Linked DNA regions of Homo sapiens. The protein of the gene in region 3 interacts with the protein of the main gene of each other region in a biochemical or structural test. Each region holds a gene or a part of one and is shown on either strand. Other genes may lie near its edges. The genes, in order: PDZD9, SIPA1L3, SLCO1C1, RGS12, STXBP4, CARD14 and RIMS2.

The links.
Region 1: the proteins of SLCO1C1 (region 3) and PDZD9 interact in a test that uses a peptide from one of them, tested with the Homo sapiens proteins (one large-scale study listed by IntAct).
Region 2: the proteins of SLCO1C1 (region 3) and SIPA1L3 interact in a test that uses a peptide from one of them, tested with the Homo sapiens proteins (one large-scale study listed by IntAct).
Region 4: the proteins of SLCO1C1 (region 3) and RGS12 interact in a test that uses a peptide from one of them, tested with the Homo sapiens proteins (one large-scale study listed by IntAct).
Region 5: the proteins of SLCO1C1 (region 3) and STXBP4 interact in a test that uses a peptide from one of them, tested with the Homo sapiens proteins (one large-scale study listed by IntAct).
Region 6: the proteins of SLCO1C1 (region 3) and CARD14 interact in a test that uses a peptide from one of them, tested with the Homo sapiens proteins (one large-scale study listed by IntAct).
Region 7: the proteins of SLCO1C1 (region 3) and RIMS2 interact in a test that uses a peptide from one of them, tested with the Homo sapiens proteins (one large-scale study listed by IntAct).

The regions. Positions count from the first base shown.
Region 1 is NC_000016.10:21,998,317-22,002,361, reverse strand, and holds the start of PDZD9 (PDZ domain-containing protein 9), read left to right. Parts: upstream 1-1,245; 5' UTR 1,246-1,314; coding exon 1,315-1,345; intron 1,346-4,045.
Region 2 is NC_000019.10:37,913,708-37,917,207, reverse strand, and holds part of SIPA1L3 (signal-induced proliferation-associated 1-like protein 3), read right to left. Parts: intron 1-3,500. UniProt on the Homo sapiens protein: Plays a critical role in epithelial cell morphogenesis, polarity, adhesion and cytoskeletal organization in the lens.
Region 3 is NC_000012.12:20,719,332-20,722,831, reverse strand, and holds part of SLCO1C1 (solute carrier organic anion transporter family member 1C1), read right to left. Parts: intron 1,029-3,500; coding exon 783-1,028; intron 1-782. UniProt on the Homo sapiens protein: Mediates the Na(+)-independent high affinity transport of organic anions such as the thyroid hormones L-thyroxine (T4), L-thyroxine sulfate (T4S), and 3,3',5'-triiodo-L-thyronine (reverse T3, rT3) at the plasma membrane.
Region 4 is NC_000004.12:3,313,521-3,317,020, forward strand, and holds part of RGS12 (regulator of G-protein signaling 12), read left to right. Parts: intron 1-1,290; exon of another isoform or gene 1,291-1,429; intron 1,430-2,549; 5' UTR 2,550-2,650; coding exon 2,651-3,500. UniProt on the Homo sapiens protein: Regulates G protein-coupled receptor signaling cascades. Inhibits signal transduction by increasing the GTPase activity of G protein alpha subunits, thereby driving them into their inactive GDP-bound form.
Region 5 is NC_000017.11:54,992,765-54,996,264, reverse strand, and holds part of STXBP4 (syntaxin-binding protein 4), read right to left. Parts: intron 1-3,500. UniProt on the Homo sapiens protein: Plays a role in the translocation of transport vesicles from the cytoplasm to the plasma membrane. Inhibits the translocation of SLC2A4 from intracellular vesicles to the plasma membrane by STX4A binding and preventing the interaction between STX4A and VAMP2.
Region 6 is NC_000017.11:80,176,530-80,180,029, forward strand, and holds part of CARD14 (caspase recruitment domain-containing protein 14), read left to right. Parts: intron 1-1,978; 5' UTR 1,979-2,126; intron 2,127-2,565; exon of another isoform or gene 2,566-2,574; 5' UTR 2,575-2,772; intron 2,773-3,500. UniProt on the Homo sapiens protein: Acts as a scaffolding protein that can activate the inflammatory transcription factor NF-kappa-B and p38/JNK MAP kinase signaling pathways.
Region 7 is NC_000008.11:103,881,610-103,885,109, forward strand, and holds part of RIMS2 (regulating synaptic membrane exocytosis protein 2), read left to right. Parts: intron 1-3,500. UniProt on the Homo sapiens protein: Rab effector involved in exocytosis. May act as scaffold protein. Plays a role in dendrite formation by melanocytes.

The DNA.
Region 1 (4,045 bases), on a different chromosome or scaffold from region 3:
CCAGGGCCTACCTCATTAGGTTTTCTCTTTCTTCTAGAATTTACTAACTCATTTATTCATTTTTATTTTTTGAGACAGGATCTTGCTCCATCACCCAGGCTGGAAGGTGGTGACTCAATCATAGCTCACTGCAGCCTTGAATCCTGGGCTCAAGTGATCCTCCCATCTCAGCCTCCTGAGTAGCTAGGACTACAGATGTGCACCACCATGCCCAGCTAATTTTTAAATTTTTTTTATAGAGAAAGGGTCTCACTATGTTGCCCAGGCTGATCTCAAACTCCTGGGCTCAAGCAGTCCTCCTGCCTCAGTCTCCTGAGTACCTAGGATTACAGGTGTTAGACACCACACCTGGCCTAGAATTTATTTTTAATAATTTATATTTTCCTAAAATTGTCCACTTCATCTGTTTTTTAAGTACAGGTTTCAAGAGGATAGAGCCTGTGTTTCTGTGTTTGTCTTGCTTACTGTTGTGTCCCCAGTATCAGTAAATGACAGAACAGCTCCCTGTAAATACTTGTTGTATGAGTGAATGTGTGTGGGAGGAAGAATTATCTTGGAAAAAAGAAGGAAGCATTAATAGTGCCTCTCCTAATAGTGACTCATTTTTTTTTAGGCCACCCTGGGGCCTTTTCTTATTCAAAACATTCATGAAAAAAAGTGCAGTTCCAAAGCATTGGAGCTACTGATGTAACAATTTTTTTAAAATACCATTATTAGAAGTGCAGCGGGGGATTCTCTGATCTTCTAGGTATTCTGTGATCTCCTGTGATCTTCTGGCTGTGATCTTCCTCTGCAGACCACCTCACATCTTTGAGACACCCTCCTCTGTGCCTTCTCCCCCTCCCTATTTCTTAGGTTCACCAAGAATGAATGAAGAAGCCAAGCGCGGTGGCTCATGCCTGTAATCCCAGCACTTTGGGAGGCTGAGGCGGGCAGATCGCTTGAGCCCATAGTGCAACAGTTGTGTTGAGCCTGAGCAACATAGTGAGACCCCCACCCCCTGCCCGTCTCTTAAAAAAAGAAAAAGAAAAGAAGGAATGAAGAAACCACCGTGGGTCAGGCACGGTGCTAACCTCTGCAGAAGTTTCCATACAGTACAATGGTGTGCAATGCCCACGCCACGTTTTGCAGGGTCCACGGGAAGCCTTGCGGCGACCTCACTGCCGCCCAATTTCTGGGCAGTGGCGGCGCAGCGCCCCCTGGCGGCCATCCCGAGGGCAGTGCCCGCGGGCAAGGTTCGAAACTGTTGGCATTGGGACTGACTCCAGCCTCTGCTCCGGGAGGCCCTCCCGGGCTGCCTGACCTCCCGGGACCATGCAGAAGGCCTCCCACAAAAACAAAAAAGGTAACTGGGGAGAAGGAAGCGGGTGAAGAAGCCCTGGGGACCAAGCCTTCGTCAATGTTCCTCCTCTGTAAAATGGCAACGGTGCACTCTTGGCCTGGGAGATAACCTCTCTCCATCGTTGTTGTTATCATCATCATCATTATCATCATCATCATCATCATCATCATCATCATCATCATCATCATCATCATTTGAGAAGGAGTCTTGCTTTGTCCCCCAGGCTGGAGTGCAGTGGCGCGATCTCAGCTCACTGCAACCTCTGCCTCCCAGGCTCAAGTGATTCCTCTGCCTTAGCCTCCCGAGTAGCTGGGATTACAGGTGCCTGCCACCATGCCCAGCTAATTTTTTATTTTTAGTAGAGATGGGATTTCACCATGTTGGCCAGGCTGGTCTCAAACTCCTGACCTCAAGTGATCCGCCCGCCTTGGCCATCGTTATTTTTATCAAGGTATAATTTCCATGCAGTAAGATCCCCCCTTTTAAAAGTACAGCTACCGTTTTGACAAGCTATACCCACGTTGAACCACCCCCTCCATCAAGATAGGGAACAGTTCCACCACTCCCTAAAATTACTTTGCAATGCCCAGTTGCAGCCAAACCCCACCCCACTGCAGCTCCTCACACCCCCATCTGTTTTTTACAGCGTTTTTTTTTTTTTGCCTTTTCCATGGAGAACATCATAAAAATGAAATCACATAGTAAGGAGCCTTTAAAAAATTATACCAATGTAAATAGGGACTTTGGCCCTTTCATTTTTATTAAAAGGGCACATAAATCTTAAAATAGCATATGGGTCACTGTATTTTATTTTTAGAGACAGAGTCTTGTTCTGTCGCTCAGGCTGGAGTGCAGTGGTATGCTCCTGGCTCACTGCAGCCTCCAATTCTTGGGCTCAAGCAATCCTCCTGCATCAGCCTCCCATAGCTGGGACTGTAGGCATGCACCACCACATTCAGCTAATTTTTTTTTTTTTTTTGAGACAGAGTCTTGCTCTGTGACCCAGGCTAGAGTGCAGCGGCATGATCTTGGCTTACTGCAACCCCCGCCTTCCAGGCGGGTTCAAGCGATTCTTGCCCCTCAGCCTCCAGAGTAGCTTGGATTACAGGCGTGAACCACCACGCCTGGCTGATTTTTGTGTTTTCAGTAGCAACGGTGTTTCACCATGCTGGCCAGGCTGGTCTCGAACTCCTGACCCCAAGTGATCCGCCCACCCTCGGCCTCCCAAAGTGCTGGGATTACAGGTGTGAGCCACCATGCCCAGCCTAAATAGAAGAGATGAGGTGTCACTATGTTGCCCAGGCTCTAATCACTTTATACTTCTGCTAGCCCCCAGGTGGGCTTACTGAAGGATGCAGACTCCTGCACTGAGCAATTCTTGTTCTTTATGGCTTTTTTCCGCACAGCATCAGGATTTGATAAGACTTGAGGTTGGCAAAGAGGCTGAACTAGGCAGGCAGGTGCCAGACAGCCTTAGGCTTTTTCACTGCAGGGCTGTTGTCATTTGGACTGCTTGTCCTTGGGAAGGTTGACATTGCTGTCTGACTAGCCTTGTAGCAAAACCTGTAAGTCTTTCATATTTTAGTCTGGTGCTTGGGGTCTGGCTCTCCGAGGACCATAGTGCTGCCTCCTCCACCTGGTTGTCCCCAAACACAGCAGCTCACTCTTTTCTGAGCTCACCCTTTTCCAGGGAGGAAGCATTGAAGATCTCACTTTCAACAGCAGTAGGATCATCTTTGTCAGTACCTTCGGGTTCCAGGGTCCCTGCCACTGGGCCCTAGCGAGCACTTTCCTCAGGTTTCATGTCTAATAGTTCATCCTGAGCATGCACTGTGTGAAGAGCCTTTGCCTAAAACACATAAAATACCTTTTCCATCTTCAGTGTTTTCCTTGTCGTGGTTTTCATCCTCTAATGAAATTAATTGACTCAGCTCCTGCACTGTTACATCTGTGCTTTCCTGCTGGGTGAGCTTCTTTTCTTCTTTCTCAACTAGTTTTTTCAGAGGGTTTTGTAAGTGCTTTAAAGTAGTGACTTCATATGGCTGATAACCTGTGAAGCTCTCATGGATGGCTGCCATAGTGTGAGAAGTCTTCTCTCCAAAATGAAGCAGAGTGGTCTGGTATGTTGCTAGCATTTGAGACAGGAGATTGCATGTATTTACTTGCTCCAAGAAAATCTACATCCAACTTCACTTTGTCAAGGTTTTTTTCTCTCTCTTTTTTTTTTTTTTTTTTTTTTTTTGAGATGGAGTCTTGCTCTGTCACCCAGGCTTGTAGCTGGGATTACAGGCATGCACCAACATGCCCAGATAATTTTTTTTTGTTTTTGAGACAGAGTCTCGCCCTGTCACCCAGGCTGGAGTACAATGGCGCCATCTCAGCTCACTGCAACCTCTGCCTCCTGGGTTCAAGCGATTCTCGTGCCTCAGCCTCCCAAGTAGCTGGGATTACAGGCCCGCGCCACCATGCCCAGCTAATTTTTTGTAACTTAGAGACAGGTTTCGCCATGTTGGCCAGGCTGGTCTCGAACTCCTGATCTCGTGATCTACCCGCCTTGGCCTCCTAAAGTGCTGGGATTACAGGCGTGAGCTACCGTGCCTTGCACAAAGTTTTTTTTGTTTTTTTTTCAAGATGTACTTGTGTTTCTTGCCTTCCCGAACTTCTGCATTTGCTTATAGAGGTCTGGATCAAACTCCTGAGACA
Region 2 (3,500 bases), on a different chromosome or scaffold from region 3:
GTACCAACTGAGATACGCTGAAAGTGTAAAATACATATTGTATGTCAAACGCTTAATGTGGAAAAAAGGAAGTAAAATAGCTCACTAATAATTTCTATATTGATTACATGTTGAAATGATGTTTTAGATGAAATAAAATATATCATTAAAATTACTTTCCTGCTTCCTTTTACTTTTCAAAATATGGCTACTAGAAAATTTTTAATTACCTATATGAGCCTCATCAGTGACCCACATTTTTTTTTTTTTGAGAAGGAGTCTCACTCTGTTGCCCAGGCTGGAGTGCAGTGGTGCAATCTTGGCTCACTGCAACTGTCACCTCCAGGGTTCAAGTGATTCTCTGCCTCCGTCTCCCGAGTAGTTGGGATTACAGGCACATGCCACCAGACTCAGCTAATTTTTGTATTTTAAGTAGAGATGGGATTTCACCATGTTGGCTAGGCTGGTCTCGAACTCCTGAACTCAAGTGATCCACCCGCGTCAGCCTCCCAAAGTGCTGGGATTACAGGCATGAGTCACCGCGCTCGGCCCCACGTTATATTTCTAACAGACAGCACTGTTGTGGGCTTTTGAGAACCAGTGTCTTATTCAACTTTATACTGTCAGTGTCAAGCATGGACCCTGACACACAGGGTAGGTGAAGAAATGTTTCACAGATGGACAGATGAAAGATGCTCTCCATACTTTCAGTCTTTTTTTTTTTTTTTTTTTTTTAGACACAGAGTGGTGTGATCATAGCTCACTGTATCCTTGATCTCCTGGGCTCAAGGTGTGGTAGTGCCTGGGCTCAAGTGATCCTCTCACCTCAGCCTCCTGAGTAGCTGGGATTATAGGTGCACATCACCAAGCCTGGCTAATTTAAAAATTTTTTGCAGAGATGAGGTCAGATGCGGTGGCTCACGTCTGTAATCCCAGCACTTTGGGAGGCTGAGGCGGGAAGACCACCTGAGGTCAGGAGTTTGAGACCAGCCTGGCCAACATGGTAAAACCCCATCTCTACTAAAAATATAAAAATTAGCCGGGTGTGGTGGTGGGCGCCTGTAATCCCAGCTACTGTGGAGGCTAAGGCAGGACAGTCATTTGAACCCAGGAGGCAGAGGTTGCAGTGAGCTGTGATCATACCACTATACTCCAGCCTGGGCAACAGAGTGAGAACTGTCTCAAAAACAAAAACTTTTTTTTTTTTTGCAGAGTTGGGGTCTATGTTGCCCAGACTGGTCTTGAACTTCTGGTCTGAAGTAATCCTCCCACCTCGGCCTCCCAAAGTGCTGGGATTACAAGCCTGAGCCACCATGCCCACCCAATATTTTTAGTCTTAAAAGCACCCACTACTGTCCTCACATCTAACCAGGGCTACCCTTCATTCAAAATACGCCCACGCTACAGCAAATCAAAGTGCACACAGGTCATGATGCCGGAGCAGGGACCTGGGGCCCTTACAGGTCCAAGAATCATTGTCTTAGTTGATGGGCTATAGTATGATACTTTAACAGCCCACATGGCTAGTGTGCTTAAAACACCATTTCCAGCTGGGTGCATGGCTCACATCTGTAATCTCAACACTTTGGGAGGCTGAGGCCGTCGGATCACTTGAGGTGAGGAGTTGGAGACCAGCCTGGCCAAGATGGTGAAACCCCATCTCTACTAAAAATACAAAAATTAGCTGGGAGTGGCGGTGGGCGCCTGTAACTCCAGGTACTCAGGAGGCTGAGGCAGGAGAATCGCTTGAACCCAGGAAGCGGAGGTTGCAGTGAGCCCAGATCACACCACTGCACTCCAGCGTGGGCAACAGAGCGAGCCTCTGACTCAAAAAAAACAAAAACAAACAAACAAAAAAAAACACCTTTTCCAGCCAAGTCCCAAGTCCCCTTGCAAAGCTCACCCAAAGGAGACACCCTGCTCCCTCTCCTTGGACACTACACTTTGTTTCATGCTAACCTGTGCCTGGTATGGCAACCAAGCAGTCAACCTTGTTTTACTTGACAGGCTCTGCTGGAGGGTCTTTAGTTTTGAAACCACCACCAAACCATCCCTATCGTGTCTCATTGAGAGCAAAAATGATGCCACAACATCCCAGGCGGCCCCTGCTGCCACATCAATTAGGTACTAAATATAGTCTAAAGTGCTTTGCATGTCAAACAACAAGGAAAGGAAATGCTGTGTCCACTTCCTCAATTTGCCTCTGCCTGGTAAGGAGGGCCCTGGAAGAGTTTAGAATGCAGGTGAAGAGCATGGAGGGTGGAATCAGTTTCCTCATCTGTAAAATGAGTTTGATCAAGTTAATTACTTCACTGGACTACTGTCAGGATTAACTGAGGAATGTGTGAAATGCTTAGAAAAGCATCTAGCACAGAGTAAGCACCAGGTAAGCTGCTATCATTATTATTATTTTATAAAAAAGTAGGCCAGGTATGGTGGCTCGTGCCTGTAATCTTAGCACTTTGGAAGACTGAGGGTGGAGGATCACCTGAGCCCAGAAGTTCAAGATCAGCCTGGGCAAAACAGGTCTCTACAAAAAATAGAAAAAATGTGGCCGGCTGCAGTGGCTCACACCTGTAATCCCAGCACTTTGGGAGGCTGAAGCAGGCAGATCACCTGAGGTCAGGCGTTTGAGACCACCCTGGCCAACATGGTGTAACCTGTCTCCTCTATTAAAAGTACCAAAAAAAAATTAGCCAGGTGTGGTGGCACATTCCTGTAATCCCAGCTCCTTGGGAGGCTGAGGCAGGAGGATCACTTGAGCCCAGGAAGCAGAGGTTGCAATGAGCTGAGATCATGCCACTGCACTCCAGCCTGGGCGACAGAGCAGACCCTGCCACAAAAAAAAAAAAAATTAAAGTAGTATCAACTTGAAAACTAGGAATTAACTCTTCTCCAGTCAAACTGATACTCTTTGTAGCAAACTCACTCCCACCTCCGGGCCTTAACACTTGCTGTTCCCTCTACCTGGAATGTTCTTTCTTCAACTTTCGGCATAGCCAGTGCCACTGCTCATTAAGGTATCAGTTCACATGACTCCTCAAAGAGGCCTGGGAGGCCTTCCCTGACCATCAAAGCTAAGGTAACCACCGCCATCTTGCCCCATCAGCCATTTGCTCTCCACTTACCCTGTTAAATTTTCTCCATCACAGTTAAAACTATCTGAAGAGGCAGGATCAGGATTTTTTTTTTTTTTTTTTTTTTGAGACGGCCTCTCACTCTGCCGCCCAGGCTGGAGTGCAGTGGTGCAATCTAGGCTCACTGTAAACTCCGCCTCCTCCTGCCTCCTAGGTTCACGTGATTCTCCTGCCTCAGCCTCCCGAGTAACTGGGACTACAGGCGCCTGTCACCACACCTGGCTAATTTTTGTATTTTTAGTAGAGACGGGGTTTCACCTTGTTAGCCAGGATGGTCTCGATCTCCTGACCTCGTGATCTGCCCGCCTCAGCCTCCCAAAGTGCTGTGATCACAGGCGTGAGCCGCTGTGCCCAGCCAGGATTTTTTTTAATTAAAAAAAAAAA
Region 3 (3,500 bases):
GACAAGAACAGATTCCTCTAACTGATGTGGGCAAAAGACGAAAAGGATGAGAATACTCCCTCATCATCTAGCTGGGAGCCACAGGCAGGACATAAAGACCTTCACTTTTCTTGTCTCTATTCCTCAAACTTAGCTTGTGGTCAAAGAGAAAGAAATATGAGAGTTATCTCCATTTAATATATGAATTTTAGTGTTAGAAATGAGCATTGGTGTTCTCCCTTTTTCCTATTATGTAGCCTACCAATTAGACATGTGAAGAATTTCTATAAATGTAAATATTGCTTGAAGGGACAAGAAGAGGGGGACCAATATCATGAGGGGCTGCTCATTTCCATGAAGGGGGTTCATTAGAACACTGGGTTTTTGCCTACAGAACACTCACCCCTTTGATCATTGGTGAGAGACATGCATTGATACACATCTCTCAAATGAATAGATCTTATCTGTTGAAAGGCTGCCAACCTTGAAGATTAAGCCTTTTATTTCCTGTATACACAGAATTACAGGAAGCAGCAATCCTGGGTAGAGACAATGGTAGGATCTAAACTGAGGAGGTGTGAGAGGGTGGAGACATCAGCAGGAATGGCTGTCAAGCCTTTGCTCTTTGGTCGTGTACTGCAATCAGTTGTTCAGTAATAAAGCTGACATCAATTTCCATTTTTGCTTCTGATATGGTTTCTCAACTTTTTAATACACGAAGGGAAGAGAGGGATGTAATTTATAAATCTCCTTAAGCCCCAACAGAAAAATGAAAATACTTCAAAATCAAGAATTTGACTTACCTCTTGCCATTTCCATTATTTTTGCATTTTCTCCCTGGGGTGTTTGGTAGTCTGTGTGATCATCTATAATAAACTTGGATTTCTCAGAGGAAGAATTAGAATCCTCTCTACTTTGGGATCTTGGTAAACTCTTTGGTAAATACCAGAAAGGCACAGCTGCAAGAAGACTTATGATTCCTGCTATTAGATAGCCAAGCCACCAGGCTCCTACCCACTGGGGATCTTTTGGGGTAATGGTTATGTGATCTGAAAGACAGAGGGGATGGCTAAGTAATACAAACAGCAAAGCTAATATGTTAAAATAATATACTTAAAAATAAATTCTTGCAAAACTCTATAACATCATAAAATACCTAATAATTCATCTATGCTATTTTTTTTTTTATCTGGATCTTACCACAGGCATACCTTGGAGATTTTGCAGGTTCAGCTCCAGACCACCACAATGAAGTGAATTTCACAATACAGAATCACATCAATTTTTTTGTTTCCCAGGGCATACAAAAGTTATGTTTAACTATACTGTAGTCTATTAAGTATGCAACAGCATTATGTCTGAAAATGTACATACCTTCATTTAAAAAAAAAGTTATTGCTTAAAAAATGCTAATAATCATCTGAGCCTTCAGTGAATAGTGATCTTTTTGCTGGTACAGGATCCCATCTCAATGTTGATGGCTGCTGACTGATCAGGGCAGTGGTTGTTGGAGGTTGAAATGACTGTGGCAATGTATGAACATAAGAAAATGATGAAGCTTGCCACATAGATCAGCTCTTTCCTTCATGAAAGTTTTCTCTGTAGTATGCAATGCTATTTGACAGCATTTTTACCCACAGTAAAACTTCTTTCAAAATTGGAGTCAATCTTCTCAAGCCCTGACACTGCTTTATCAACTAAGTTTATGTAATTTACTAAATCTTTTGTTGTCATTTCAGTAATGTTCACAGCATCTTCATCAGGAGTAGGTTCCATCTCAAGAAGCCATTCACTTTGTTCATCCACAAGAAGCAACCCTTCATCTGTTTAAGCTTTTTTTTTTTTTTTTTTTTTTGAGATGGAGTTTCACTCTTGTTGCCCAGGCTGGAGTGCAATGGCGCGATCTCGGCCCACCACAACCTCCGCCTCCCGGGTTCAAGCGATTCTCCTGCCTTAGCCTCCCTAGTAGCTGGGATTACAGGCATGTGCCACCACGCCCGGCTAATTTTGTATTTTTAGTAGAGACAGGGTTTCTCCATGCTGCTCAGGCCAGTCTCGAACTCCTGACCTCAGGTGATCTGCCCGCCTTGGCCTCCCAAAGTGCTGGGATTACAGGCATGAGCCACCGCGCCCAGCCTGTTCAAGCTTTATCATGAGATTGCAGCAATTCAGTCGCATCTTCAAGCTTCATTTCTAATTATAGTTGTCTTGCTGTTTCTACCACATATGCACTTACTTTCTCCACTAAAGTGTTCAACACCTCAAAGTCATCCAGGAGGGCTGAAATCAATTTCTTTCACACTCTTGCTAATGTGGATATTTTGACCTCCTCCTATGAATTGCAAATGCTCTTAATGGCATCTAAAATGGGGAATCCTTTCCAGAAGGTTTTAAATTTACTTTGTCTAGATTAGAAATCACTAGAAATCATTAGAAATCACTACTGATCATAGCTATAGCTTTGTGAAATACGTTTCTTAAATAATAAGACTTGAAAGTCAAAATTACTCCTTGATCCATGGGGTATAAAATGGACGGTATGTTAGCAGGCATGAAAACATTTATCTCTTTGTACATCTCTATCAGAGTTCTTGGGTGACTAGGTGCATTGCCAATGAGCAGTAATATTTTGAAAGGAATATATATATATTTTTTTTCCTGAGCAGCAGATCCTAACAGTGGGCTTCAAATAGTTAGTAAACCATGCTGCAAAAAGATGTGCTGTCATTCAGCATATCTCTATTGTTCTAGTTAGAGAGCACAGGAAGAGCCTATGTGTAGGAATTTCAGAATGTTAAATGAGCATTGGCTTCAACTTAAAGTCACCAGTGGCCTTAGCCCCTAACAAGAGAGTCACCCTGTCCTTTGAAGCTTTAAAGTCAGGATTGACTTCTCCTCTATGGCTGTGAAGGTCCTAGATGGCATCTTCTTCCAATAGAAGACTATTTCATCTACGATGAAAATCTGTTGTTTAGCATAGCCACTTTCATCAATAATCCTAGTTAAATATTCTGGATAACTTTCTGCAGCTTCTCCACCGGCACTGGCTGCTTCACCTTGCACTTTTGTGTTATGGAGACAGCTTCTTTCCTAAAACCTCATGAACCTGTTTGCGCCAGCTTCAAACTTTTCTTCTGCAGCTTCCTCATCTCTTTCAGCCTTTATAGAATTAATGAGGGTTAGGCCTTGTTCTGAATTAGGTTTTGGCTTAAGGAAATGTTGTGGCTGGTTTAATCTTCTCTCCAGACTACTAAAACTTTATCTCAATAAGGCTATTTCACTTTCTTATCTTTCATGTGTTTACTGGAGTATCACTTTTATAAATTCCTGCCAGAATTTACATTCACAACTTGGGTAACTGTTTGGTGCAAGAGGCCTAGATTTTTGCCTGTCTTGGCATTCAACATGCCTTCCTCATTAAGCCTAATCTTTTCTAGCTTTCCTTTTAAAGTGAGAGATGTGCAACTCTTCCTTTCACTTAAACACCTAGAGGTCATTGTAGGGTTACTAATTGGCCTAAT
Region 4 (3,500 bases), on a different chromosome or scaffold from region 3:
GAAAGAAATTACTGCAAACTGGGGGGCTTAAGACAACACACATTCATTCTCCTGCGTTTTCGGGGGCCTCGTGTCTGCAGTCAGTGTGACCTGGCTGATGGCAGGTGTGGCAGAGCTGGTTCCTCTGGTGACTTTAAGTCTGCTTCCTTCACCTTTCCGGCTTCTGGAGGTGACCGCCTGCCCGTCTGCCTGGGCTCGAGACCCATCCTTGAATCCCTGCAGTCTCCGCATCCTTCCTCATGTGGCCGTCCCCTCTGGCTCTGACCCCAGGCTCACACAGGCGCACCCCACACTCTCCCCATCTCTAGAGCCTTCACGTGGTCACGTGGATGGGAGGAGCCATCCAAAAGCTTGGGAGTGAGGATGTGGGTGTATCAGGGGCCATCAGCCAGCCTGTCACACCTCTTAAGAAGATCGATCCCCAGACGTGTTTCTTGGCCAACTTTTACATTTATTTATTTATTTTTTAATGATGATTTTTAATAATTTTTAATTATTAAAAAATTATAAAATAATTTTAATTATTTTATTTTTTAAATTCATTTTTTAATGATTTTAAATAGTTAAATGCCCAGTCCTAATATTTAAATTATTAATACAGTACTACTTAGATATTGAGTAATGTAATTTATATTCATTTTTTACTCTTTTCCATCAAAACATAATTTTACTAAGTACGCATGTTCTGTGTCCGTGTTTTGTCATCACTGAAGCCACTTTTGGAGTCACCTAGTAATAGCCTTTCCACTCTATCTAGTTCTGTAGCTTTTATGTGTGTAAATTACTTCAAATCTGTTTATGATCCTATTGCTGGAAACTTTATCCCAAGACACAAAAATCTTTTCTATTAGAAGTTATTAACTTTAAAACAATTATTTATTTTATTTTATTTTATTTTTTGAGACAGAGTCTCGCTTTGTCACCCAGGCTGGAGTGCAGTGGCACGATCTCGGCTCACTGCAAGCTCCACCTCCCGAGTTCATGCCATTCTCCTGCCTCAGCCTCCCGAGTAGCTGGGACTACGGGCGTCCGCCACCATGCCCAGCTAATTTTTTTTGTATTTTTGGTAGAGACAAGGTTTCACCGTGTTAGCCAGGATGGTCTTGATCTCCTGACCTCGTGGTCCACCTGCCTCGGCCTCCCAAAGCGCTGGGATTATAGGCGTGAGCCACCGCACCTGGCCTAAAACAATTATTTCTTTAAAAAAACATACCCTCTATTCTATTTTGTGTCTTCACAACACAATCACTTACTGTATTGCTTTTTAAAGTGATCTTTAAAGAGTCTTGCAGAAGAGACTACACAGCAGGCCCGAGACCATCCTGAGAGGCCTGTGTGCAAGGCTGGCCCCCCGCTGGTGTCAGGACGGTGCCCACCACCCTCAATGAAGAGGGGCTCCCTGTGCTTAGCTGCTTGTGTGGGGAACAAGGTTTGTGCTGAGAACCTTCCTTTCTTCTGGGAGTCCAGAGTCTGGGCACGAAGCAGGCAGAGGGTGCCCATGTGCCCAGCCCCCAGTAAAAACCCTGGCACCGAGTCTCTAGTGGGCTTCCCTGGTGACGACACTGCACATGCGTTGTCACGGCTCACTGTGTAGGGAGTTAAGTGCGTCCTGCGTGACCCCGCTGGGAGAGGATTCTGGAAGCTCAAGCCTGGTTTCTTTGGGACATCGCCCCATGGACCTCTGCCCTTGCTGATTTTGTGTGGAATCCTTTCGCTGTAATGAATCTCAGCTGTGAGAGCACCTTTGTGCCAAGTCCTGGGAATCCTAGGGAATCACTGGCCTGGGGGTGATCCGCGGACCACTGACAAGTTTGTTCTCAATGACAACCAATACTTTTATACCCCCTGGAAGAATTGAGTTAATATGACATTTCTGCTTTTTTAGGTGGTGGTTTTTATCTAGCCTGTTGAGTGGCCTCTGCAGTATTGATCGAGGTTGTTTCAGGCTAATACGTTTTCCCCCACACAGTATATTCAAAATAAATTAATGTGGGAGGGTCATGGAATATTAGGTGACCCCTCTCCTGAGGGAAAACTCTATGTCAGGGGATTTATGATCAACTAAGGGGTTAGACTCAGTGTTCTGCAGGTGCCTTTGAACCTGAAGCCTGTAGCAGGCCTTGCTTCTCACGCTTGGACTCTGCCATCCTGTGAAACGTGGGTTTGGGTGTGTTTCTTCTGTGTGGAGCCCGAGAGTCTGCCTTTCAGACGGGCTGCCAGTCCACGGACCACACTTTGAGTAGCAAGGGGCTCTTTCCATCCAAACAGGGTGTGGAAGCAGTGCTGGGAAGCAGTCCTGCATCCTCACACCCGTGGCAGGTGGGCCTGGCAGGAACTTGTGTGGTAACAAGGTAGCAGTTGTGGGAGACATTTTCTACTCCGAAAGGAAGTTTCTTAGCCTGACTTGAAGATTTATTATCTATAGACACTTAGAGGCTCTTTCTGTGGTGGTTTTTATTATGAATTATCTTTTTGTGTTTAGCTAATACCAGTGAGTGGTGGAGAAAGATGGGCTCTTTAATAATGAGCTGTTCGTTTTTCTTTCTTAGGGCACTGTTTGAAGAAGCAAACATGGTAGCATCAAGCATTCCTTGAAATATGGCTCCAAGGGAACAATGAGACGTGCTCTTGGTCTTGGAAGCTCATCAGAATGTTTAGAGCTGGGGAGGCCTCCAAACGCCCATTGCCTGGGCCGTCGCCCCCAAGGGTGCGGAGTGTGGAGGTTGCCCGGGGGAGGGCCGGCTACGGATTCACGCTTTCGGGACAGGCACCCTGTGTGCTCAGCTGCGTCATGAGAGGGAGCCCTGCGGATTTCGTGGGCCTCCGAGCTGGAGACCAGATACTTGCTGTCAATGAAATCAACGTGAAAAAAGCATCTCATGAAGATGTAGTGAAATTAATTGGGAAGTGCTCTGGTGTCCTTCACATGGTGATTGCTGAAGGCGTCGGCCGCTTCGAATCCTGTTCCAGTGATGAAGAAGGGGGACTCTATGAAGGAAAAGGCTGGCTGAAGCCCAAGCTGGATTCTAAAGCACTAGGTATAAACAGAGCAGAGCGAGTCGTGGAGGAAATGCAGTCTGGTGGAATTTTCAATATGATTTTTGAAAACCCGAGCCTTTGTGCGAGCAATTCAGAGCCCTTGAAATTGAAACAAAGATCCCTTTCAGAGTCGGCCGCAACTCGATTTGATGTTGGACATGAAAGTATAAATAATCCAAATCCCAACATGCTTTCTAAGGAGGAAATATCAAAAGTTATTCATGATGATTCGGTTTTCAGCATTGGACTAGAAAGTCATGACGATTTTGCATTGGATGCAAGTATTTTAAACGTGGCGATGATCGTGGGCTACTTAGGCTCCATTGAGCTTCCTTCCACGAGCTCCAACCTGGAGTCCGACAGCTTGCAAGCCATCCGCGGCTGCATGCGGCGCCTGCGGGCAGAGCAGAAAATCCACTCGCTGGTGACCATGAAGATCATGCACGACTGTGTGCAGCTGA
Region 5 (3,500 bases), on a different chromosome or scaffold from region 3:
GAATTCCCATCTAGAATGCCACCATCCACCCTGCCACTTCTCTGCAATAAACTCTGACTTAAACTTCACAGCCCAATTCAAACACTATCTCTGCTGGAAGTTTTCTCTAGTTGCCCAGGATTTACTTAATCGTTGTGTCTTTTTGCTCAAAAAGCACTTTTACTTACCTAAAGGATTGCACTTACTCTGTATGGTCCTTATGTTTACATATCTGCTTTTCCCTGCCCTCACATTAGAATATACTAAATCAGCAACTCCCAGTCTAGGGGCAATGATTCTTTTAGTGGGCCAGAATCACCAATTCTTTCATTAGGCATAACTAGAACTCTGTCCTTTTCATGGTTATTTCCCTGGTACAGTGCTAGGTACACAGTAAGTCCACAATAGGTTAAAGGGGGCCAAGAAACAGTCTGAGGAAATTAAGGTAGCTATGACAAAAATAATAATGGCAAAGGAATAAAGAGAGTGACACTGCAAAGCGAACCATCTTGGCTGCTACTTCTTCAGCTCCCACCAGTGGGACTGGTTTCTTCATAGTTTGCCATCCAGAGGCCTGATCCTGATATTTATCTAAAAGCCTTAGCCCTGGTTCCAGTGCTATGCTCCGCATGAAAACAGATTTCCTCTGAAAGTTAAATATGTCCTACTTCAATGCCACAAATTACATGATGACACTGACTGTGAGACCTATAATTTCAGAGATAGAAGAGGAAAAAATACGTACATACACACACTCATAAGTATATTACATACCGATATATGCATGTTATATATATGTGTGTGTGCATGCATAGCTTATATGTATATGTTTTAATGTATATCTTAGAACCAACTGAAGAAAATATGAAATATACTATCAGATTTGAAGAGAGGATTTTGATTTCTGTCTGCTTTCCCTATGTTACCAGCAACAAAAGAAAGAAATAAAAATGAACATTTGAGAACTTTAAAGTGTTGTCGGAAATCTGACACAAAGGCCCAAGGAGGAAGTACCTTGGTGTGGAGCCCAAATGGTGCCAGTGGAAGGGTAAATAAGCAGATCAGTAATCCTCAGAAATGTGAGAAAATGACTACGGGACCGTTCATTCATAAATTTAAATTGAGCAAGTATGTATGTGTCAGGCACCACAGTGGGGACTAACAATATTACTGTGAATAAAATCAGATAGCATCCTTGCCCTTAAGAAACATACTGTCTTGTGGTTCAGGCAGAGATGATTAAACAATCATAAATATAAATATATCATTGCAAACTGAGGTAGGTGACACAAAGGAAAGGAATGGGATTTAGGAGCATATGTAGAAAAAAATAAAACCTAGCCTAGACTGGGGGAAAGCAGGCAACACAACCCTTAGGCAGCAGTCTTTGAATTGATAACTGGAAATAATGGGGGAAAGGAAATGGAGTGCTGTTTCCTAAGGGAACAGCATATGAGATGGAAAAGAAAAAAAAAAAAGAGAAATTCGCCCCTTCCAGGAACTGAGAAAATGCTACTCTGGAAGCATAGTGATGGAGAGGCAGAGAAGGACAGGGCAGAAGCCACACTATATGGAACCTTGCAGGCAACCAAATATTAGTAAGATATGTAGGTTGGGAGGGAAATAGGTATGGTGCATAAGAACAAACGATGCTACTGAAAGGGCTGATTCAAAACTGATGACAGTTTAAGCTCCAGTGATAAGAATAAAGATCAAGAAGACTGATGGGTTCAAGAGATATTTCGAGAGTAAAAAAGTCAATGGTATGTGTTAATGAATTGAACAGTGTTATGGGAGTTGAAATAGGAAGCTGTTAAATTTTCTGACTTTGTGTAGCTAGAAGCTGTCATTCACCAAGACTAGGTAAACTGGAAGAGACTCTGTTTGGGAAGAGTTGAGCAGAATATGGTGTGATGTAAATGTCATGAGTTCTGCTTCAGAAATGCTGAGTTTGAGATACCTTTAAGAGGTCCAAGTAAAAATGTTGATCAGGGAACTGAATATGGGTATGAAGCTTAAAGGAGTGTCTTGGCCAGAAAAAGGGTCTAGGATTGACCCCAGATAGATATGGGACTAGCTGACACAGTGAAAGGGCCTTGGAGCTCTCTTATTTCCTTAACTTTAGCAATTAATACAGTAGTTCTCAATTTATAGGGTGCCTCTAGCTCTTAGAGCTGAGGGAATCTTGGTTCTGCTTGAACTGAAAAGATGTATTCATAATATCCCATATTTGAACTCTGGATATGTTTTTCAAAGAAACATACTATTTTGCTTCTACTAAACCAGTATTTTATTCTCATATTTTCCAGGAGGAAAACTTTTGGGGTGGGTGGTGGCAAACCATGAATAATTAAAGAAAATTTCTTCTGCGTTCCAATAACTCCCTTACAGTTTGGAAGATTTGAAAATATAAATGAAATATAATCTAGCTATAAGCTTGAGATAGCCTATACTGTTAATTATGAAACATTATAATGTTAAAACAAAATTACAGAAAGTTAAAGCATTCATATGCATTTAAAAAATATTAACAGTTACTCAGTTCAGCAACTTCATTAAGATAACCTTATGAGTTTGTGTTTCCTATTCCACAGATTCTACTATGTAGAAATTTTGTGCAGACTAGAAATTTATTAACATGTTAAAACAGTATTTAGAATATAGTAAATGTATTAATACATTGTTGTAAAATAAAGTTATATCAATTTTGTATTTGAAGAATATGCATATGCATAGAGCTCTCCATCTTGAGAAAATATTTAAAAATAATGTAAGCACTAGAAAATTACTTCTATAAATTTTTTTATTTTTTAGAAATGCTCTGTTGCCCAGGCTGGAGTGTAGTGATGCAATCATAGCTCACTGCAACCTGGAACTCCTGGGCCCAAGGGATCCTCCTGCCTGGGCCTCCAAAAGTGCTGGAATTAGAGGCATGAGCCATCACCCCTGGTCCTCTTCTCCTACACCTTTTTCTATCTTGCCTGTTTTCCTTGGTCAGATATGACCAGGTAGGAAGAACATTAATAGCTCTGTGCTGCCCTCTAGTGCTAAGTAGAGAATATAGTCAATGAGAAAATTTTGCCTTTTAATACTTCAGTAAAATTCTAACAAGAAAAAGTAGATATCATAAGAATAATTTCTTAATCTGCTATCACTGACAGAAGATAAAGAGTCATTCAGCACCACCGCTATCAACTTATTACTCTAACTCCAAATAGTTTTCATCGTAACAAACAAGCACAAATTGATGCTTGTCTTAAAAGCAAATTCTTAGGTCAGGCGTGGTGGCTCATGCCTGTACCCCCAGCACTTTGGGAGGCTGAGGCGGATGGATCGCCTGAGGTTGGGAGTTCGAGACTAGCCTGGCCAACATGGTGAAACTCTGTCTCTACTAAAAATACAAAAATTAGTTAGGTGTGTTGGCACGCACCTGTAATCCCAGCTACTAGGGAAGCTGAGAGGTGGGAGAATCGCTTGAACCTGGGAGGTGGAGGTTGCAGTGAGCCGAGATTGTGCCACTG
Region 6 (3,500 bases), on a different chromosome or scaffold from region 3:
TGCAATCGCCGCCACAGTTAACTTTAGGACATTCCATCATCTGTAAAGGAAACATCCCCTACCTTTAGCTACCATCCTGACATCCTGATAGACAGGGGGCCTGAAGACCCCTCGGTGATGCAGGGCAGGGCTGGAGTGGGGGCCCTGGGCTGACTTTATTGCTCGCTATTGCTGCCTTGAAATTCTGAATACGTTTTTAAAACAAACGCACCATCCTTTCATTTTGCCCTGAGCTCCACAGACGATATAGCTGGTCCTGAAGTGGGGCAGAGGATCATTCTGACTTGGAGTCAGACTCTAGCGACGCAGGCTTCTACTGGGTGGAGGCCCAGGAGCTCAGGAGCCTTCTGTGGGAGTGTGCCCATTGGCAGCGCATCCCTGGAGATGGACGGACAATTTCCACATCGCCTTTGCCCCTGTGCACGCTCCCTCTGGCTGCCGTCATAAATTACCACAAACTGGGTGGCTTAAAACAACAGAAATGTATTTGCTCATGGTTCTGGAGGCCAGAAGTCCACACTCCAGGGGTGAGCAGGGCCGCACCCCCATGAAGGCTCCAGGGAGGGTCTGCTTCATGCCTTCTCTTGAGTTTCTAGTGTTGCCACCGACCCTTGGCGTGTCACTCCAGTCTCGGCCTCTGCCAACATGGGGTGATCATGGGGTGTCTAGGCCTAGGGCCCTTCTCCTCCTCTTCTTCTTCTTCTTTCTTTTTTTTTTAAGACAGGGTCTTGCTCTGTCGTCCAGGCTGGAGTGGAGTGGCACTACCTCAGCTCTGCAACCTACACCTCCCAGGCTCAAGCGATCCTCCCACCTCAGCCTCCTAAGTAGCTGCGACTACAGGTGTGCACCACAACACCTGGCTAATTAAAAAAAAAATTTTTTTAGGCCAGGTGCAGTGGTTCATGCCTGTAATCCCAGCACTTTGGGAGGCCGAGGCAGGCGGATCACTTGAGGTCAGGAGATCGAGACCAGCCTGGCCAACATGGTGAAACCTTGTCTCTACTAAAAATAAAGAATTAGCTGGGCATGGTGGCATGCACCTGTGATCCCAGATACTCAGAAGGCTGAGGCAGGAGAATTGCTTGAACCCGGGAGACAAAGGTTGCAGTGAGCCAAGATTGTGCCATTGCACTGCAGCCTGGGAGACGAGCAAGACTCTGTCTCAAAAAAAAAAAATTTTTTTTTAGCAGATTTTAGCAGAGACAAGGTCTCACTGTGTTGCCCAGGCTGGTCTCAAACTCCTGAGCTCAAGCAATCTGCCCGCCTTGGCCTTTCAAAGTGTGGGATTACAGGCATGAGCCACCACACCCAGCCCTTCTCCTCTTGTTATAAGGGCACCCATCCCTGGACTAGGGCCCACCCTAATGACCTCAACTTGATTACGTTGGCAGAGACTTATTCCCAAATGAGGTCCTACTTACAGGTACTGGGGGTCAAGACTTCAGCATTCTTTTGCGGGGGGCCACAATCAGTGACACCCTGACTCGCAAGCCTCAATCACCTGTTCCAGTGAGAAACAGGACTGAGATCAGAAGGAATGAGGCAGAGCTGCCCTCGATTGGTTCTCCTCTCCTCCTCACCTGCCCACCCCGGCCTCTGCGCCCGTCACTGTCCTCTCCAGCTGTTCTTCCTTCCGGGCAAGGAGACTCAGCAGAAGGGTATGAGTGGCCTGGCCCTGTGGGGAGCCGCAGACAGGCCTGTGGGTGCTTTGGATAACTACTGCGCCTGTCAACTCTCCTTGGTAGTCTAGGGTTCAAAGCCCAGGTCCATTCTAGAAGTCTGCTTCCAAGTGCTAAGGAAGCTTCAATAGTTACTGGGAAAACCACAGGGGTCAAAGGTCCGTCGAGTTATTTCCCGGATCCGAGTCTGACGTCTTTTCCCCGCCGCTTGCGGTGGTTGTGACCGAACCTTGAGTTTTGGAACAGGTCACATGGCTTTGAAATCACGGTCAATTCACCTGGTGCTGCTTTGACTTCAGGCTCTTCCTTCTGCCCAGCTCCGTCCCACCCAGCAGCCCGCAGAGAAAGGAGGCAGCTGGCACCACACTGGGCTTTGGAGACACTGCGGGGACTGTGGACCCCACCCTGCTGCACGGAGCTCCTGCAAAAGCAAACCTGAGAACCTTGGTGAGTACTTCCGGAGACCCGGCTCCTGGGACGGCTTCTGGCGCTGCTCCTGCACACACGACTCTCCAACGATCATTTTCCATGTTTTATTTTTATCTTTTAATTTTTGAGATGGAGTCTCACTCTGTCACCCAGGCTGGAGTGCAATGATGCAATCTCAGCTTACTGCAACCTCTGCCTCCCAGGTTCAAGTGATTGTCCTGCCTCAGCTTCTCAAGTAGCTGGGACTACAGGCACCCGTCACCATGACTGGCTAATTTTTGTATTTTCAATAGAGACGGGTTTCCACCATGTTGGTCAGGCTAGTCTCAAACTCCTGACCTCAGGTGATCTGCCCGCCTTGGCCTCCCAAAGTGCTGGGATTACAGGCATGAGCCACTGGCCCCGGCCCATTTTCCATTTTTCAGATGACAGGTGTTGATTTGCTCTGATTTTCAAGTATTTTTAGCATACAGATCCCTGCAAGAGGCATCTGTCTCCAGTGGTCCAGCCTCTCCTTCCAAATGAAAAGAATCAAGTCACAGGAATTCATGGGTCTGTAAGGAATCGCTCCCATCTGTGCCCAGGAGATTAACAAAGGCGGTGGCTGCAGCTCTGTGAGCAGTGGAGAAAAATTAGGCACAACCTGATATCCTCCCACAGGAGCGTAAGTCCACTGTGGTTATTCATATCATTGAATCCAGTGCACAGTTTAAAGGACCATGCATGTATCAAGCTGCATGTATCAGTATGAGAAACCTCAGAAGCCGTACAGCCTTGCACAGAACGATAGTTTCTGTGAAGTTCCAGCTAACACTGAAGGCACTGTTGATGTAAAGCTGCTGTCTGCACGAAGTATCATGCAAAGATGCTATGTACTGTTTATACACACTTCCATTTGTAGGAAATGATTTTTAAAATATCATTTTTAGGCTGGACTGTAATCCCAGCACTTTCAGAGGCTGAGGTAGACAGATCACCTGAGCCCAGAAGTTCGAGACCAGCCTGAGCAACATACGGAGATTCCATCTCTACAAAAATTAAAAAAGAAGCCAGGCATGGTGGCGCATGCCTGCGGTCTCAGCTACTTGAGAGGCTGAGGTGGGAGGATTGCTTGGGTCTGGGAGCTCAAGGCTGCAGTGAGCCACGATCACGCTACTGCGTTCCAGCCTGGGCAACAGAGTGAGACCCTACCTCAAAAAAAATCATTTTTAAATGATTTTAGAATGTCTGGCCAGAGAGGGAGGGAAGAGGGACTGAAGAGAACAAAAAGGCGCCATCTGCCTCGCATTTCCTTAAAAAGAAACCTGAAGTGCAGAATGTCAAGATGGTTGAATCCGCATGGTAGATATGTGGATATTTGTTATTTGCAGGATTTTTTAATATGCTGAAAAC
Region 7 (3,500 bases), on a different chromosome or scaffold from region 3:
ATTTTGCATAGTTAGAATAACATTTATAATGGAGCATCAGATGTGTTATACAAGCTAGAATATTTAGAAATAGATTGAATAGTCCACATGACAAACAATTGTAAGCAAGGAATAGAAATGATACTTACTACAGTAGATTTAGGATGTTTAAAATGTGGTTTTCTATAAACTGGTTCTAATTAAGGACAGAATACTCTGGCAAAAGAGAAAGCAATTCTAACAACACAGGTGGCAATAAAGAGAAGTGAATCGATATTAGGTAAATATAAAGTGAATATAAATATATACTGATATTATAACAGAAATAAGGATAATAGAATGCGTAGGAGTAAAGATTAAGGCACTATATGATGCCACAAATACATTTTATACTAAAGAAAGGCATAATTTTGGATTCTGCCTCTTAATTTCTCAGGGTCTTTGAAGGATTAAGTGAAATGTAAAATCCTAGACGAATCGTTCCTTTTCCTTTGTATTATAACAGATGAATTAAATACTGCTAAATGCCTTATGGTTCTGTAGAGAAATATACAAATTATCAATGATATTGCTTTATCTATTAAATATTTTCCACCTGATGATAATAAATGCTAAGGCTTGTTTATAAAGGCCAATAGCAAAGATATACAGTAGAAACACATTACTTGAATTTACACTGATTTTATTTAGTTCCTGAAAGGAATATACTATCTATGAAATATAGAAGTTTAAAATTTAAAGGACAGTATATATGAAGTAATTCATAATATAGTTGGTAAAAATTGTTTGATAGAATATTTATTATTTTGAAATAATTGATTGCAGGTTCTTCATTGTTTGATACATGTATTGTTAGAATGAAATCTTGCCTTGTTTCTCGCATAGTGTTAACATACTGTAAGGTACTATACCTTAAAGGGTATTCTTGAAAACCTAAGTCTTTGTAACAGTGACAGTAGTCATCCCAATTTCCGATTATAACCACTGTTCCATTTTTATAGTGGTTATAATCTTAAATCCAGTACAAATCGACATCTACAGTATGATTCACATATTTCTGGCAAATTTGATAATCTCTAGAACAATGTGATTGCTGGATTTAACATTGAATTCAATTTTCCTAAGGTATGATTTTTAAAAAGTACTTAGATGGCTTGCTAGTGACTAATTATTAATAGCCTTTCTCTTGGAACTGAATTCCATAATAGGAAGTAAATATTCTTATTTATCTGTAAGATAAAATATAATCCCCTGTTATAAAGACTCATTGTATTCACTTTATACTCTACTTACTTTCAAAAATTCATGTTAATTCCTTAAGATAGGAATGAAATATTCCTTTTTTTAACTTCTATCCTAAAATACTCAGTTTAACATTAAATGTATTATGGGAAATCTTTAATGCATTAAGCTTTCATGTAGGCTTATTAACTTGATGAAGTTGTGGTATCAATATTGTAAAATCATAGTACCTAAGAAATGGAAGATGGTTTTAGAATCATTCACCCTCTTAAGAACAAGGAAGGTGTCTTAATCATTTCTGCATTCCTAATTTATAAGATAGTGTGTGGCATTTATTTCTTAACCTAATATATGTTTGTTAAAGTAATATATAAGTTAACATGTAAAATCTATGCCTCTCAATTTAAAGCACAAACTCCTAAGGATTTAATGGTTATATAGTTCGAAATAACTGGCTAATTACAAAAGTATGACTAAGAACTGTAGATTCCTTAAATCTAGTGTTCTCTTCATGATAGACTACTATCATGCTAGAGTTTTTTTAGTCAAATGTATAAAAGTAATGACAAAAGTGAAATGAATGATGCACAGTGCACACACACATATACACAGAAACATAGGGTGTTGGGTACTATAAATTTTTTTGAATGTTTTGTTTTGATTGTAAATTTTAAACTGTAGGAATCTATGGTTTTATGTAACAATTGTAATATAAAAGATTTGTAATTAAGTCCTAAGTGTTTCATATATAAATGTAAATGCTAAAAAATATCACATCCACTTTCTTAATTATAAAACATTTAAGGGATAGACTAATTTTTTCACTTTCTACAGTACTTATTCCTTTATAGTTCCAGGTTAGAGTTTATCCTGGCTTTGTACTTACATGAGATTTGAAAGGTAGAGGATATACAGAAGCCATTATTGTCAAGCATTAGTTGTTGGCTAGCAGATGGGCAGATATAAAAGTCTTAGTGGCTCCTGGGCAAACTCCTGTTAATTGGCCACCCTGATGCTGTAGGTGGTACAGGTAATTGCTGGCAGATTTCCATAGACTCCTGACATTCACAGCAGCTTTCTAGTGTCCATTTTGAGAACCCTTGTCTTTGCATCTTCAGGCTAAGATCATCAGCATTAACTTTCTTGGCCTTTATTCCTGTCGCCCATTCAACTGTTATGTAGCTTCTGGTTCCTGAATTAAAACCCTTCCTACCTGGAAAACCTAGACTAACTTCTGTTTTCGTTAGTGAACCTAATTGGTAGATTGGCAGACTGTGTTCCAAATATGAGGGGAAAAGGGATTCTGTGACCCGGGGGAGATATTAGAGAAGAGTGCTGATTTTGCCAGGTTGGGTCATTCTACTGTATCCTTTATCTGCTCTTGCTTTTGGGCTAAGAAACCATTGACTAAGAAATTCACAACTGAACTGTTGAATCTTAGTCATCTTTAACTTCAGCTGACTTCACTCTTTCATTGTCTCCTGTTCATGTCCTGGCAAAATCCCCATAATAGTTTTCTAAACCTTTTCTGTTATCTTCAGGATTCTAATCCTATTGCTTTTCATGATTAATAGTTGATATTATCTAAGTTTATTCCAGAGAAAAGGTTAGTGTGAATATTTTGTTAACAGGGTATCATGTCTTATTGCAAGGTTCACTAGGTTTTACCAGTGTTAGAAGGGTAAGTTGAGAAGGTAATAAGCAGTTTCTTCCTCTGAGACTATAAGGAAATATGAGGGGTCAGATGTGGAGACTTAGTAGAATAATATCACCAAGCTGTTCTTAATCTAAATGAAGATGGAATAAAAATAGCAGTTTTTTCTGATTTCTAGGATTTTTGTAATGAATAAATCATTATTATTTGTCTATTTTTATTGCTTATCTCAAGTTAGATCAATAAAAAAGGGTTGGAGACATGATGATAAAATGAAAATTTAGGTGAACCAATACTAGGAATGATCTAGAAGATGATGAATGAAAAATGATTTTTAAGAGCCAGCACTTAATTTTAGTCAGAAAGTATTCAACTCTTGAGCCAAATCAGTTTGGCTTCATTACATTTTCAGGTAACTTTCATATCAGCATGTTAGGTATAGAGAAGATGGAGGAAATATTTTTCTAAGCTGCTGAATAATAGTTGGTGGGTAGTGGAAGTGTACGTAGCAAACCAAGCAAGGAAATTAGAATAAATGCTAGTTTATAGCAGTGGAATATCATATTATCTAATTTTCAAGCATAAGCATATTCCAGATATAGTGTTGCAGGCACTTAATAACCAC